Regions from separate parts of the Homo sapiens genome. Here region 2 is linked to region 1. Evidence: fine-mapped expression QTL. A gene starts in region 1. The other region holds a variant in brackets. All regions are shown on one strand. Distances are from middle to middle.

Evidence for each region. PIP is the estimated chance that this variant, and not a neighbour inherited with it, causes the effect.
Region 2: its variant is fine-mapped to the expression of B3GALT6 in whole blood (TOPMed, PIP 0.98).

The regions. Positions count from the first base shown.
Region 1 is chr1:1,228,284-1,236,601 of GRCh38, forward strand. It overlaps B3GALT6 (beta-1,3-galactosyltransferase 6), which reads left to right and starts at 3,954. Exons shown (of 1, transcript NM_080605.4): 1 at 3,954-6,758. The coding sequence starts at 3,996. The coding sequence ends at 4,985. It overlaps SDF4 (stromal cell derived factor 4), which reads right to left and starts at 3,718. Exons shown (of 7, transcript NM_016176.6): 1 at 3,609-3,718; 2 at 185-663. The coding sequence starts at 489. RefSeq lists a silencer at 3,196-4,055 and enhancers at 3,672-4,353, 4,354-5,035, 5,820-6,321.
Region 2 is chr1:1,390,344-1,398,661 of GRCh38, forward strand. CCNL2 (cyclin L2) reads right to left here. Exons shown (of 11, transcript NM_030937.6): 2 at 8,254-8,318; 3 at 7,890-7,999; 4 at 5,051-5,171; 5 at 3,053-3,117; 6 at 423-522; 7 at 116-220; 8 at 1-28. Among named protein-coding and RNA genes, the nearest start is that of CCNL2, 4.8 kb to the right of the region's middle. RefSeq lists an enhancer at 2,619-3,119. The variant G/A (reference allele first, on the strand shown) is at 4,703.

The DNA.
Region 1 (8,318 bases):
CTGCCAGCGCAGGCCTCCGCGCAAACACAGCAGGCTGGAAGTGGCGCTCATCACCGGCACGTCTTCCCAGCCCGGCAGGTCCCGACACAGGGCCCGGCGCCCCCCACCGCGCAAAGCCAGGATAGGAACACACAGGCGAGCGCACGCGGACAGCCCCCCAGTCTGGGCACATGGCGGCACCTACTTGGAAAAGATGACCATCAGCTTCCTCCGGCTCCGCCGCGGCTCCGCGTCCTCATCAAAGCCACCCAGGTCCTTGCCTAGGAAGACCTCCTGGTGGAAGCCGCGATTGAGGTGCCCGTCCATCTCCAGCTTCACCCCGTTCAGGTGGTCTGGGGGCAGGATCTCATTCTCCTCCCTGTTGGCTACTCTCTCTCGAGTGGACGAGTGGTTGGCAGGCCGTGCAGACGCGTCCATCAGAAGGACTGCCCCCAGGAGCCAGAGGCAGCACGGAGCCAGGCCAATGAGGGGACCCCACCTGGACGCCATCGCCACCCAGGGCCAGACCATGGGGCGGGCTGCAGGGTGTGGGCCAGGTGCTGGGAGGGGCAGGGGCAGGGGCAGAGGAGGAAGTGAGGTCCTGGCTCCAATCCAATCCCCGGGCACCACGGAGGGCTCTGTGTCCCCAGGACGGCCGCAGGATGGGGACAAGCAGCTCACAGTCTGCAGAGAGACACAGACACATCATTAGCAAGACTCAGCAAAGACTTCCCCAAGCACGTCTATCCTGCAACATGAAACATATCCTCGATTCACAGGATCCAGACATGTGGCATCGCCTTCTCCAGACCACACGTGGCACTGCCTTCTCCAGACCACACGTGGCATTGTTTTCTCCGGGCCACACGTGGCATTTGTTTTCTCTGGACCACACGTGGCATTTGTTTTCTCCGGACCACACGTGGTGTTTTTTTCTTTATTTTTAGAAACAGGGTCTTGCTCTGTCACCCAGGCTGGAGTACAGCGGTGACCACAGCTCACCGTGACCACGAACTCCTGGGCTCAGGTGATGCTCTGGGCTCAGGTGATGCTCTCGCCTCAGCCACCGGAGCAGCTGCGACCACAGGCGTGCACCCCCACGCCCAGTAATTTATTTTTATTTTACTCTTTGTAGAGACGGGTCTCGCTGTATTGCTCAGGCTGGTCTCAAACTCCTGGCTTCAAGCGATCCTCTTGCCTCAGTCTCCCAACGTGCTGGGATTACAGGCGTGAGCCACTGTGCCCGGTCTTTTTTTTACAGACACTGAGTTTTCAGCCCTGTCTCTCCGTCTTTCCATCTCTCTCTCGAGCTGTCAGCACCTCCAGGGGCTAACCTGTCCCCATCGCCCAACACCTGCAGCACAGCTTTCCTGTGGGGCCCGGCTCTGTCCCTCCTGGCATCATGCCACTGACCCATGGGGTTAGGGTCACTCTCCAGACCCTGACTTGAACATTCTTGAGATCTATGACCTTAGCTAAGTCATGTGGCCTCCCCGGCCTCAGCTTCTCACTAAGAAACAGGAGGCTCCCCCTCTCCCCCCGACTGACCAGGCTTTGCGAAGACAGCCAACCCTAAGTGCAGAGGGCGTCAGGGCCTGGTCCCAGCAAACAAACACACAACCCCCACACACAGATGTGCACACACACATCCACACTCACGCATGCACGTATTACACACATGTGCCCTTGCCCACACTCGCGAGCGAACGCCAAGGCCGAGGAGCCCAGAAGTCTGTCCTGCCGTCCGAGGCGTGGCCAGTCCTGGTGGGAAGCAGGGGCTCACAGGGCCTCATGCCTCATGTATCCCAAAGGGAACTCGGGGTCCTTCTCACCCACGAGCCTACTCCTTTCACAGTCTGCCCCTCCGGCAAACACCTGCGGGTCCTTTCGGGTGCCGCTGAGGCCCCGCCATGTCACAGCTGTTCCCTCAACACACATGGACTGAGACTCCTGTTCTGTGGCCGTCTTATTCAGCTTCACTGTTCTGGCACCTGCCACTCTGCCTGCACACAGTAGGCGCTCAACGAATGCTACCCTGGGTAATATTAAACGAAAAAATGCTGCCTCCAGGTATCGAGAAACACCAGTGGGGCCGCCATGAAAGTGGTCCTGAAGTCAGTGCAGTCTGCCACAAACCAAGAGGGGTACAAGCCTGAGTTCCCCCAAGGAAGGAAACCCTGGGTGAGGGGCTCATGTCTGATTTTTTTTTTTTTTCTGAGACAGAGTCTCACTCTGTCGCCCAGGCTGGAGTGCAGTGGTGCAGTCTCGGCTCACTGCAACCTCCACCTCCCAGGTTCAAGTGATTCTCCTGCCTCGGCCTCCCAGTTAGCTGGGATTACAGGCACCCACCTCCACTCTCCACTAATCTGTATTTTTAGTAGAGATGGGGTTTTGCCATGTTGGCCAGGCTGGTCTCTAACTCCTGACCTGAAGTGATCCTCCTGCCTCGGCCTCCCAAAGTGCTGGGACTATAGGCGTGAGCCATGCACCCGGCCTGATTTTCTGAACATGGCTGAGGGCTTTTCCCTTCCCTAGTGGTGGCATAATTCTATTCCTGTCGTCCCAGATCGCCTGACCAGGGGAGAGTCCTGGATAAGAACCAAGACACCTCCTCCTGGTGCTGACTCCACTAACTACAGTCGTAAAACACACGCTGTGTGCAAAGAGACTGTACTTTGTTCCTAGAGAAAATAAAGCTAGTTCTTGATTCTACATATCTTGATGAGTTACACGGTTTACTTGAGGCAGGAGGATCGTGAGACCAGCCTGGGCAACACAGTGAGACTGCGTCTCTTTAAAAAACAAAAACAAAAAGATAAGACCCTGTCTCGAAAAAGGGGGAATAAAAAGTAACCCAAAAGTAACTATAAATATCAGGAGTCCATCAAGTGGCGCTTCCTCTCCTGGCTTCAGAGTATCTATTCATCACGGTGTGCCAGGTTCGCAGCACAGCGGAGCGGGCCGGTCCCACCGGAATGGGGTTTCGACTTCGCCATCCCCTAGCAGCTCAGTTCCCAGCAAGGAATCAACACACCCTTGCAAAACGGACGTGGGAAACAGCTTAGGCAGAGACGCTATTTCTTTGCCATCCCTGGGCTTCAGCTCTGGTGGAACGAGGCTATTTCTGGCAGTTAACAACACACACGGTTAGATTCTAAAAGCTCAACAGGGTTCATAACACCGCCTCTGAGCCAGACATCAAGGGCTCCACACAGCCGACTTCACATCTCCAAATCCTACTAACTGGGGATGAGGGTCCACGCGGTTCAGAAGCGGAAGCGCAGGCGCAGGGAAGCGGGGCAGCTTGTCCAAGGTCGCCTCGCCGATAAACGCGAGTCCAACCAGACCCCTTGGGCCTCCGTTTCCCGGTGGCATTCGTAGGTTTTGGCCAGTAGGAGACCAGACGTGCCGGCGGCCGGGGAGGCCAGCGTCGTCGGCCTGTCCCTGCCCCCGGGAACCCCGGGAGCCCCGGTGGCGGCGGAGTCTCGCCAGGGCTCAAGGCCGAGCGGACGGACGATGCCCCAGCCCAAGGCGGGAGGCGGCGGCGGCCTCCAGACCCGCCCTCGCCGTCCGGCCGGCGTACACTTGGCCCCGCGGCCTGCAGCGGCCGTCCCGGGCCCCTCACTCACCGGTCTGCCTCCCCGCGCTCGGGATCCGAGGACCGGAGCGAAGCGTCAGTGACGCCGCCAACGGGCCCGGATCAGGCCACTGCCATCTTTCTTGCGGGCGGGGGCGGTGCGAACGGGCGCGACCTCACGGAGGGGACGCCGGCGCCACCATCTCTCCTCCGGGCGGAAGCGGTCGCGGGGCCGCTCCGAGGTTGACCAATGACAAGGGTGCCCGAGGCCACGTGACGGCCGCCGATTGGCCGCCGGCCTCCGAGCGCCCCGGGGCTCGGCGTCTGCGGAAGGCCCCGGCGCGCTCCCAGGAGCGCCGTGCGCACGCGCACCGCCCCGAGCCGGCGGCGCCTGCGCACTCGCGAGTCCGGCCTGGGCCGCCGGCCCGGCGCGGGCGCCATGAAGCTGCTGCGGCGGGCGTGGCGGCGGCGGGCGGCGCTAGGCCTGGGCACGCTGGCGCTGTGCGGGGCGGCGCTGCTCTACCTGGCGCGCTGCGCGGCCGAGCCCGGGGACCCCAGGGCGATGTCGGGCCGCAGCCCGCCTCCCCCCGCGCCCGCGCGCGCCGCCGCCTTCCTGGCAGTGCTGGTGGCCAGCGCGCCCCGCGCCGCCGAGCGCCGCAGCGTGATCCGCAGCACGTGGCTTGCGCGGCGCGGGGCCCCGGGCGACGTGTGGGCGCGCTTTGCCGTGGGCACGGCCGGCCTGGGCGCCGAGGAGCGGCGCGCCCTGGAGCGGGAGCAGGCGCGGCACGGGGACCTGCTGCTGCTGCCCGCGCTGCGCGACGCCTACGAAAACCTCACGGCCAAGGTGCTGGCCATGCTGGCCTGGCTGGACGAGCACGTGGCCTTCGAGTTCGTGCTCAAGGCGGACGACGACTCCTTCGCGCGGCTGGACGCGCTGCTGGCCGAGCTGCGCGCCCGCGAGCCCGCGCGCCGCCGCCGCCTCTACTGGGGCTTCTTCTCGGGCCGCGGCCGCGTCAAGCCGGGGGGGCGCTGGCGCGAGGCCGCCTGGCAACTCTGCGACTACTACCTGCCCTACGCGCTGGGCGGCGGCTACGTGCTCTCGGCCGACCTGGTGCACTACCTGCGCCTCAGCCGCGACTACCTGCGCGCCTGGCACAGCGAGGACGTGTCTCTGGGCGCCTGGCTGGCGCCGGTGGACGTCCAGCGGGAGCACGACCCGCGCTTCGACACCGAATACCGGTCCCGCGGCTGCAGCAACCAGTACCTGGTGACGCACAAGCAGAGCCTGGAGGACATGCTGGAGAAGCACGCGACGCTGGCGCGCGAGGGCCGCCTGTGCAAGCGCGAGGTGCAGCTGCGCCTGTCCTACGTGTACGACTGGTCCGCGCCGCCCTCGCAGTGCTGCCAGAGAAGGGAGGGCATCCCCTGAGCCGCCGCGGCCCGGCCCTCCGGGACACCTGCTTCACCCGGCGGCGCCTTGGGGCAGGTGCCGAGCGGGCGCACTACGCCCGGGCCCCAAGGCCCCCGTCCCGCAGCCACGCTTGTGGTCGCTGCGTCCCGGTCTGCGTTTGGGAGACCCCTGGGGGTTGCCGGGGCAGCGCGCCGTGTCCAGGTGGAGGTGCCCGTTCCTGGACCTCAGCGAGCCTGAGCCGGGCCCGGCCGCACGCTGACCCCCGTGCTGTCCCCGACCGGCTCACGGGGCTGGGCTCCGATCTTCCGTGTCTCTTATCAGTGGCGTTTCTCACGTCTGCGTCTCAGATCTAACGTGGTTTCACATCAATCCGCTTTCATGGGATTTTGGTCTCTGTCCAGTGACTTCGTGGTAAATGTAACTCAGTGTTTGCTTGCGACTTATTTATAAATATTGTAAGTTTGTGTCGATGAGTGTAAGTTGGCAGTGCGCACGTCTCGGTTTTTTTACATGATTTAAGGAAAGACTTTTATGTCAGAACTTGGTGCCTGTACCGTCAACCCCGCTGCTGCCCGTGTTTAAACGCAGGAGAACTTTAAAACTGGCCATCTATCTTTTCAGTGTACAAGTCACTGAACCCATTGTTTCTTTCTGAAGAGACTTTCCTTTCAAGGCTTCCCATGGGTCCGCGCCACACAGGGCCGGTGCTGCTTTATTTCAGACTCTGCCCCAGGTTCCAGGAATCCGAACCCCGGAGTGCTGACGCGGTTCCCCAACTTCCGCCTTAAGAAAACAGGACCAGCCGGCACCAGGCCCGTCTCTCACGTACTTTAACACATCCTTGAAAGCCCCTCGTTTAATGAGAAAAGCGAACACTGCGGTCCTTGCCAAAGTAAAATGAAGCTGCCCCAGGACAAGGGGTTACCATGAGCTCCCTGGAGTCCGACGCGGGTTTTCTCTCTGGGGGACCTGGGTGGTCCCCGCTGTGGTCTTTGTTGTCCCACTTTGGGACCGGGTCCAGTCTGGGGTCTAGTCTCGAGCATCAGGGTCAGGCTCGGGGCAGGGCTGGGTTAGGCTCCGGGTCAGTCTTGCCATGGGTTTGGGAGCAGGTTTGGGTTACTTGCGTTTGAAGGCAGCAGTGGTCTCAGGAGGAAGAAACGGGGGCGGGAGAGAGTGGTGATCTGTGGTCAGTGGGTCAGTGACCTGCACGGTGATTCTCCCACCTCCAAAAGGTAGGGGTGGGACTGGAGGCGTCCCTAGGTCAGGCCGTTGAGTTCGAGCTCCGATGGGCCACCTTGAATCCAGGACTGACCGCCCGTGTGTGCACAGTTTGTTCTTGGACGAGGACTCGTGAGGATCGAGGGCTGGGGACCCCGGTGTGAGCAGGATGGGGCCCTGCCCTCCCGTGGGAGTTGTGGACTCGAGCCCAGGGGCTGCCCGTCACAGCGGTGTCCCAGGTCCCTGCCATCCGATTTTACCTGGGATGTCTTCTCTGGAGTTTGGAATTGCTTGAGGAACCCTGCGTGTGCTTGGAGAGGCCAGAGGGCTTGCTGAGAACCCCATGGACAGTGGAGAGCGGGATTCGAACCAAGGGCTGGACTCCCACACCTCTGGCCTGCGTCGCCCAGTTCTTTGTGGCTCTGAAGAATTGGCCGCTGTGGAAAAGAGCAAATGTCCGAGACCCCCAACAGGAAGAGTCTAAAAATCCAGTTTGCAACCACTTCTGACCTACAAAAAAATGGAAATTTAGTGTTTTTCAGCCTAAGACATTAAATTTCATATCAGAACAAAGCCTGCCCCAGGCTGACCCTCCCCAGCCGTACCGTGGTGAACGGGTTCAGAGGATACGTGGGCTGAAGGCTGGGCCTCGGGAGGGCTGGGGGCTTCCAGAGCCGGGGCAGCTGCAGCTCTCTCTGGTCTCACCTGGAACTTGCCCTGTAGATCCTCCCTGCCCTGCGGCTCCAATCGACCGTGCACGGGCCGTGGCATCCGTCCCCCAGGCGTCCTTCCCTGGTCTTAGCTTGTACAGCTCCCCACCCACCCAGGTACTCGGTTCCCGGAGACCAGGGCCAAACCAGGAGGCCCTCGGGAGATGGGGGGTCACCGAATTCATTTCCATGTGGGAACTTGGGATACAAAACAGCCAACTCTTCCTCAGCCACACGGATGTTTCTCCTCTAGTGGCCCCGAGAACCTACCATGGAGGGGACAGTGTCAGGGCTGGACGGGCACGGCGCAGCCACACGCACACAGCCCCCAGGAGGCACAGGGCCGGCAGGGAATGCAGGTCAAGCCAAGAGGATGGGCTCTGGTCCCTTCAGGATCCCCCAGGAGGAGAGCACCCCCTTCTGCCCTCTTCCTGGGGACTATGGTCCTGCCTCTCTGCCCCCTGAGGCTGGCATGCAGGCACCTGACGTTGGCTCCAGCTCTCTGGGCCAGCCCTGGGTACCCGCCGGGCCTGTGGCCTGGTTGGTCACCCCCAAGATGCAAAGTGCTACCTGCATCCGGAGGCACCCCCGCCCCTGAGGCCTCCAGGTTCCCACCTGCCCACCTGTGTCTGGCTGGGATCCTGGCTGTCAAGGCTCCTGTTACGGGACTGAACTGTGCCCCCTAAAAGATATTCCAAGCCCTAACCCAGCAGCTACAAACTGACCTTGTCTGGAAGTCGGGTCTCTGCAGGTGGAATTGCGTTAAGGCAAGGTCCTGAGGTGGCCTTACTCCCACGGAACTGGTGTCCTTACCAGAAAAGACCTGGGAAAAAGCCACTGTGTGGCTAGAGACTGACACCCAGGCGATGCCTCTGCAGGCCAAGGATTGAGGACCCTCCACCCCCACCCCACCAGGCAAGGAAGGGCTCTACCCAGAGTCAGGAGCGTGGCCTCCAGGGCTGCGAGGGAAGACGCCCCGTCCAGCAGCCCCAGGATGCCAGCCCAGTTCCCTGTGCCCGGCGCTCTTCGGTGCAGACGCAGGCAGGGGCTCCTGCAACCTTGTGGCATCACAGACGCCCAGCACTGACTGGGCCCAGATCTCCTCCCCGCAGGGCTCAGCACACACCCTGTTCCCGGCAGGCCTCCATCAGTCCAGCCTGCAGCAGGGCTGCCCCCGCGGCCTGGGTCACCCCAGACTCTTCCACCCTCTCCCTGGCTGACTGTCCCAGCTCAGAGTCCTCAGGTCTAAGGGGGTCACGGCCCTCCTGTGGCCCCACCGGCCCCAGGCTCCCCAGCTGTGGCACTGTGAGACCAGCTGACGTTGCAGGAATGGAAGCCCCAGCGGCCCAGACGGCTTGGGGAGTCCTCGGGAGCAGGTGGCCAGAGACAGGTGCGTGCCAGGCCCTCCGCACCCAGAGCGGGG
Region 2 (8,318 bases), 160 kb after region 1:
CTTCACCCTCCAGGTGTGTGAGATCAACCTGCAAAAGCCAGAAGGTGTCCGTTCAGAACCAGGTGTTTCTGGCCAAACACAAACGCATACGTTACATGAAAAAATGCCGAAGAACCTTTTTCCGAGCATAAAGCTGCAAGATCTTTAAGCAGATTTCCTGAATTTCTTCTTCAGTTGCTCCAAACAAAAGAAACCAATGGGGACGATTGGGCAAAGGGATCTGTAAAAACAAACACTATCATCATTACACTTTCCTCAACTTCACGGCCAGCAAGACTCAGGACAATTAAAAAACAGCCTGTTGGTCACGAAAATGCTTTGGCCCAGATTAGAGTAATTTGAAGAATAACACAGTAAAGTTTACTGGAGGCTGGAGAAAAAAAAATCAGACTAGAATCTCTCCATAGTAGCAACACACTGACCTCCAGCGTCCGGGCAGCAAGATAAATGCAGGCACAGGCGATGCTCTCTGGCTGGAACCGCACGAAGACGTCGGTGCGAAGGCTGTCGTTCATGTAATTCCTGGAAGCCAAACACAGGAAGAACTGCAATGCCCCACCCGGGAACCCAGGTCTTCCGCCTGCATTATCTAGAGAAAATCTAGATAAACGTACTACTCCTCTAAGGAGTCTATTGCTAGGACTCAGAGCTAGACAGTCCTGTGAATCTCAAGAGTTAATGGAGAAATATTCTAGCTGCTTTTTCTAAATACAGTAAATACAGGACAGAAAGGCACAGAAATTATTAGAAAAAAAAAAAGCTGGCTGAATGTCAGACAATACGTGTTGCTATGAAAGAGAACCGACTTTAACTTTACTTTTCCCCTCAACCTTGGCCTGCTCTCATGCAAAGCACGATGCCTCAGAAAGAAAATGTCTACTGGAGTCACTAAAACGCTTTTGATTAAAGAAATCTAAATGCTCAAAATCCATAGTGCAGAGAAACATGCAAACTCAAATGAACTGGCTGAGCACAAAGCCGGTGTGGCTGCTGGGAGACAAGCCATCCTCTTGGGTTCCTCTTCCTCTTCCTCCAGGGCGCTGGCGGCAGGCCCCTTCTCTGCTGACCGAGCTGCAGCTTCCTTGAAGGAGTCCACTTGGAAGAGGGAAAAGCCCCTTGGGTGCAAGTTGGACGCGTGGGAGCATCGTGCGGAGGGAGACTCCGCACCCAAGGGCAGGCCTCTTCTCGGGCTCATCAGAGCCGCTGCCAACTGTCCCATTTCAACAAGGGGTCTTAAAATGAACATTCATAGAATCAGAAGCAACACAATACTGAGAAGCAACATGATACTGAGAAGCAACATAATACTGAACATTTCATCACAGTACATTCTTTAACTTTCATATTTAGAAGCTATAAACATACAAAAATTTACATTTTTTAAAAGTTAAAGCATTTAAAACCTGGCTACATTTTGAGCATTTCCTTTAGATCTCTAAGATTTAATAGACTAAAACCAGACCTTACACTAGCTTTATGAATACTGCAAAAACAGAAAGGGTGATTCCATGAGGACAGTTGAACTGGTTTTATATTTACTGCTCCTCACATACCCCAATAACGGGGAGCCTTGGAGTGGGGCTGCACCCGCAGACGAGGTGGGTTGTGAGGGAATCTGACCCATGACCTTCCAGCAATATCTCTGTCCTAAATAAACCTTGGAGAAGGTAACATACAAACCCACTCAAGAGATTTCTAAATGGGAAGTCCTACAGGTGCCTCTTGGAGACACCCGGCTCTGGAAGCAGCTCCAGGCATCACGGGGGAATCTGTGTGGCGGCCGTGTGGCCCCAGCCCCTGATGCAAGCGTGCCAGTGCACAGCTCTAACACAGATACATTCAACAATCAGTAACCTTTCGGTGTCTAATCAACAACTGTCAGTATTCAAGTAGTGATATTAATCCACGAACTTAAAATTCTTAAAAACAAATGAAATCTTGAGAACATATAAACTTATTGCTGTATTTGAAGTGATACAATATTTTTCAAAGTATCCATGAAATAATTTAAAGATGCACACCTTTTACCAGAGCGTGTCATGCAAAGCTGCTCAAAAGAGCAACTTCAGGGCTTCTAGAAATCATGACATAACCCCACACTGACACAGCCAATTTGTCTCTTCAATTCTCACAGCTTTCCATAGCATTTTTTTTTAAGAGAAAGGTACTGCATCTTTATCATACAGGTACAGCAGTTTTAAAGGGACAAAATTCAAGTCAAGACAGTTACCAACTCTAATCAATACGATTACCAAAGCACGACAGAGGATTAACAAGAAGCACAATCGTCAGAGAACCACAGCAGGAGTCGGCCATGGCTATGCTATGTGCGTACCACCAGTCTAGAGCCAGCCTTCGGTGGAGAGCCTGCACTGGATTGGCTGAAGATGCCGCTGTCCCTGCACCAAAGCGCTTGGACAGCAGAGGAGAAGTCTTAGTCACTTACCCTCAGAGGCTACCCTTTGATTGAAAGAGTACAGAAAAGAAAAGTCAAAATAGGTTCTCTATTAAACATGTCATAGCACCAGACAATTCAGTCAGCAAAAATATGACCCTTACAGACTTAACTCCATGGGAAAAAATTCACCAGAATCCCCAGAATCCCCCAAATACTACATTGCACTTTAGGGTTCCTTTCTAGCACATGCATTGCTAAAATCGGCCCCAGAACCTTCTCTGCCCCTCTCCCATGGGATGCAATGTCAGTGGAGAAACAGACCAAGTCTGCACTAGCCTGTCCCTCCACCCTCCCCAGGAAAAGGTCCCCCTGCGCCAAGTCAACAGCTCCCAGAGGAAGCCCACTGACTGCTCTCTTCAGGGTGGGGGACACAGGAAGTCCAGGCTTGCAGGGAGGGGACGGGCCACCTACCGTGACTGCCAGTGCCCATTTTGGGAGTCTGATTGGAATTTATACAGCAGGAGCACTGGGCACTCGGACAACTCCAGCCCACAACCAAGTCACTGGGCTGCCTACCCACTGCCCAAGTGCCTCAAGTCAACACATTCCTGCACTGCCCTTGCTGGTCTCATAAAACAAGGAAGCTCAACTCACCATGAGGTCTGGACCAGGTGTTGGTTACGCTCACACTCTAACACCTGAAGGTACATAACGATTATCTGGAAGATACGGGTCAGGCAGTTATTACCAAGAACCTTAAGAGCCCAGAATTCAGATCTTGTGGGTGTCCATGCAGCAAACAAGAGCCTCAAGCTAGATCCCAGGAGTGGCTCCTGGCCACACGTCTGGCGGACGGCTCAGCTGGAGGGAGCTTTGCGATTGCACCTGCTGTCTGCCTTGGCAGCCAGGCAGGACGCATGCCCGTGAGCCCAGCCACACAACCCACGGCACAGGCCTCGTTCTTCATGGGGCTGGTTTCATTCTAGTCTTCAATGCCTTTCCACCAGTGAGGTTGGCCTGTCCTACACGTCTCTGTATCCCAGTTAACAACTCACCAAAACACAATATGAACATACTTTCAGCAAACAGAGAAGAACACTTCAGGCCAGGCACACTGGCTCATGCCTATAATCCCAGCACTTTGGGAGGCTGAGGCGGGCAGATCACCTGAGGTCAGGAGTTCGAGAACAGCCTGACCAATATGGAGAAACCCAGTCTCTACTAAAAATACAAAATTAGTCAGGCATGGTGGTGCACGCCTGTAATCCCAGGTACTCAGGAGGCTGAGGCAGGAGAATCGCTTGAAACCAGGAGGCGGAGGCTGCATGAGCTGAGGTTGCGCCATTGCACTCCAGCCTGGACAACAGAGCGAGATTCCGTCTCCAAAAAAAAAAAAAAAGCACTTCAATCTGTGGTGGGCAATTTGTGGATAATTTGAACAGATGGCAGAAAGCCGAACAAGCAGATGAGGAAACCCACCAATAAAAAGGAGATGGAACCAAAGATGGAAACAATTTTTTGGGAAAACAAGTGCTTTGTTTCCATGTGACACAGAAGGCACCCACAACGCTGGGAGTGAGGGACCGTGTCACGGCCATGGTCCTCAGTCAGTACATGCCGCAAAACTCGCCAGTCATTTCAGACTAAAGGGGCCAGAATTCCCCTAATTTCTCCATAAGAGAAAGTAAAGCTATCACTAAAGCAAATGTAGAAAATTAACTGTTGAGGCTGGGTGCAGTGGCTCACACTTGTAATCCCAGAACTTTGGGAGGCCGAGGCAGGTGCATCACCTGAGATCAGGAGTTTGAGACCAGCCCGGCCAACATGACGAAACCCCATCTCTACTAAAGATACAAAAATTACCCAGGTGTGGTGGCGCATGCCTGTAATCCCAGCTACTTGGGAGGCTGAGGCACAAGAATCACTTGAACCTGGGAGGCAGAGGTTGCAGTGAGCCAAGATTGCACCACTGCACTCCAGCCTGCATGACAGAGTAAGACTCCGTCTCAAGAAAAAAAAAAAAAAAAAAAAAAAAGGCCAGGCACAGTGGCTTATGCCTGTAATCCCAGCACTTTGGGAGGCCAAGGTGGGAGGATCACGAGGGCAAGAGATGAAGACCATTCTGGCCAACATGGTGAAACCCCGTCTCTACTAAAAATACAAAAATCAGCTCGGCGTGGTGGCACGTGCCTGTAGTGCCAGCTACTCAGGAGGCTGAGGCAGGAGAATGGCTTGAAGCCGGGAGGTGGAGGTTGTGCCTCCACTGCCACTGCCACCATGCCACTGCACTCCAGCCTGGCGATA[G/A]AGCGAAACTCCATCTCAAAAAAAAAGAAAACAAAAAAAAATTAACTGTAGAGAAAGGAAAACATAAACTAAAATTCAACATTTATAAACTCACCACTATTTTTGAAAGCCCAAACTTAAATAATACCATTTCCAAAACACTTAAAAATGTGTTACTAAAATAAACAGCTGACACTAGAAGACGAATACGTCAGGAACTATTCTTGAGATTATAAATAGAAACTGGAAAGCCAAGTCAGGGATGCACTCAGTCCTCTTCAGAGCCTTCAACTGCACTGAGGTGGAGAGAGGCGGCCAGGCAGGAGCAGCGGCCTAGGCGGGCTCGCAGGGCAGGAGCCGCACACCCACCTTATGAGGATGCTTCACATGGACGCAGAAACCCAACTCTTTGAGAACTCGTCTTTCCGCCTTTATAATTTGGTTCTTTAAATTAACATAATCTTGATCCAGTAGTAGAGGCACGGGCTTCCTGCCAGAGAGAGAGCACAGGGTCTGCACCACAGTCAAGCAGAGCAAGGCTTCTGAGATCCCGTCGTTACCTCCAACTATGAGCACCTAACACAAACCCCACAACACAACATCGCTATGAAGTCCACATCCTCTGATGAACAAAACTGCACACCGCTCCCCACAGCCCAGTGCCAACCTCCTCATCCCTTCCCAACGATCCCTCCCTGCTTTTCCTTATAGATCAACAGCTTCTGGTGCACAAGCATAGACCGAACATAGCAAGTTTTAGGATCTCGTGGCACAAATGCTAAAGCACTTTATGTGACTCACGATAGGAAGGTACATATTCACAGTTCAATAACCACAGAACCAATGAAAGCACAATTATTTAAATACAGATGGGCCAGGTGCAGTGGCTCTGCCTGTAATCCCAGCACTTTGGGAGGCGAGGCAGGCAGACTGCCTGAGCTCAGGAGTTCAAGACCAGTCTGACCAACATGGTGAAACCCTGTCTCTACTAAAAAAATGCAAAAATTAGCCGGGCGTGGTGGCGGGTGCTTGTAATCCCAGCTACTCAGGAGGCTGAGGCAGGAGATTCACTTGAACCCAGGAGGCGGAGGTTTCAGTGAGCCGAGATCGCATCACTGCACTCCAGCCTGGGTGACACGGTGAGACACAGTGAGAGTCCGTCTCAGAAAAAAAAAAAAAAAAAAAGGGCTGGGTGCAGTGGCTCACACCTGTAACCCCAGCACTTTGGGAGGCCGATGAGGCCATGTTTTTTCTTTTTTTGAGATGGAGTCTCACTCTGTTGCCCAGGCTGGAGTGCAGTGGCGCGCTCTTGGCTCACTATAACCTCCACCTCCCAGGTTCAAGCAATTCTCCTGCCTCAGCCTCCCAAGTAGCTGGTATTACAGGCATGCACCACCACGACCAGCTAATTTTATATTTGTAGTAGAGATGGGGTTTCTACATGTTGGTCAGGCTGGTCTCGAACTCCCGACCTCAGATGATCCACCCGCCTTGGCCTCCCAAAGTGCTGGGACTATAGGCGTGAGCCACTGCGCTCGGCAAGGCTGTTTTTTTTTTTTTTTTTTTTTTTTTTGAGACAGAGTTTCACTTTTGTTGCCCAGGCTGGAGTGCAATGGCACAATCTCAGCTCACTGCACCTCTAACTCCCCGGTTCCAGCGATTCTCCTGCCTCACCCTCCCGAATAGCTGGGATTACAGGCACCCGCAACCACACCCGGCTAATTTTTTTTTTATTTTTTTTTGAGACGGAGTCTTGCTCTGTCGCCCAGGCTGGAGTGCAGTGGCCCGATCTCAGCTCACTGCAAGCTCCACCTCCCGGGTTCACGCCATTCTCCTGCCTCAGCCTCCCAAGTAGCTGGGACCACAGGCACCCGCCACCACGCCTGGCTAACTTTTTTGTATTTTTAGTAGACGGGGTTTCACCGTGTTAGCCAGGATGGTCTCGATCTCCTGACCTCGTGATCCACCCGCCTCGGCCTCCCAAAGTGCTGGGATTACAGGCGTGAGCCACTGCACCTGGCCAATTTTTGTGTTCTTAATAGGGACAGGGTTTCACCATATTGGTTAGGCTGGTCTCGAACTCCTGACCTTAGGTGATCCACCTGCCTAGGCCTCCCAACGTGCTGGGATTACAGGCCAGCCCGGCCAGAGGCTGTGTTTTCTAAAGGACTTCAATTAACTTCAGGTGCATAAACCCTGGGCTAAGGTCAGAGGCAGCGGTTCTCTGCTGGAGAAATTTTACTATTCCAGGGCCATGAAGCAACATCAACAGACTTTCGTTTTTTTTGGAAACAGGGCCTCACCCTGTTGTCCAGGCTGGAGTGCAGTGGTGACATCACAGCTCACTGCAGCCTCAATCTCCTGGCCTCAAGCAAACCTCCTTTTTCAGTCTCCCAAGTGCTGAGATGACAGGTGTGAGCTCCCACATCTGGTATGAGAGAATTTCTGGCTGTCACATCTAAGGTGGGGTACTCCTGTCATCCAGTGAGTCGAGACCAGGGATGTTGCTGAATCCTGCAGCACACAGGAGAATCCCCTACAACTAAAGATTACCCAGCCAGATGCGGTGGCTGAAATCTGTAATCCCAGTGCTTTGGGAGGCTAAGGCCAGCAAATCCTTGGAGCCCAGGAATTTGAGACCAGCCTGGGCAACACAGCATGACCCCATCTTTACCAAATAAAAAATAAAAATTAGCTGGCATGGTTGGCGTGCTCCTATAGTCCCAGCTACTCAGGAGGCTGAGGCAGGAGAAACTCTTGAGCCTAGGAGGTTGAGGCTGTAGTGAGCCATGATCATACCACCGCACTCTGCCCTGGACAACAGGAAACCTGTCTCAGGAGGAAAAAAAAGATTATCCAGCCTGAATGTCAATAGTGCTGAGATTAAGATTCCCTGCTCCAGAGCACTCAGAAACTTGTGGGACAGAAGCAGCAGCAGGGCCGTGCACTGACATGGGTAAAGCAGGAAGCCAGCCCCAGCGCGACCCGCCACAGCGCACTGTCCTCACTGGAGCCCCTGCCCTTACTAAACCGCATCTACTGATGCCTCTGAGCAGGCTCTGTTGGTGGAGCTTGAGACTGCGCTCATGAATATCCCACAGGTTTAGAGCCTCAGGCCTGTATTGTGTTATACAAGCCTTACTGTAACTTAATCAGAAATAAAGAAAATAGGCATCTATGATAGACTAGACAGCTCTGACTGACTCACTTTTTGTCTCTCAGCTGTCGAAGGCGGTGAAACACATTGATGACGTCCCGTATGCGTCTTGGGGCCTCTTCTATCTTGGAAGCCAGGTGGACACAGGCCATTGACACATGCTGAAGCGGAAGCATTGCAACACGCCCATGTTTGTCCCCAGCCACGGCGTCCTGACGGCCGCCAAAGGCTTGAGGGCTATTCAGACCAAAAGGGAGGTGCACCCAGGGGAAAAAAAAAGTCAAGAAACAGAACCCTCCGGCACAGAGCTCAGACTGGGGGGCAAGTACTCACTCCCTTAGTAACCGGGCAAAGTAACAAACCGTTTTACCCTCAACATACTTCGCTGGGAATGAAGTGCAGGAGGAAGCCTTACCTCCATGGAGTGCTTCACGAAGGACTTGGTATAAAAGAACCGCTGGAACAACACCTGCCCGGTAG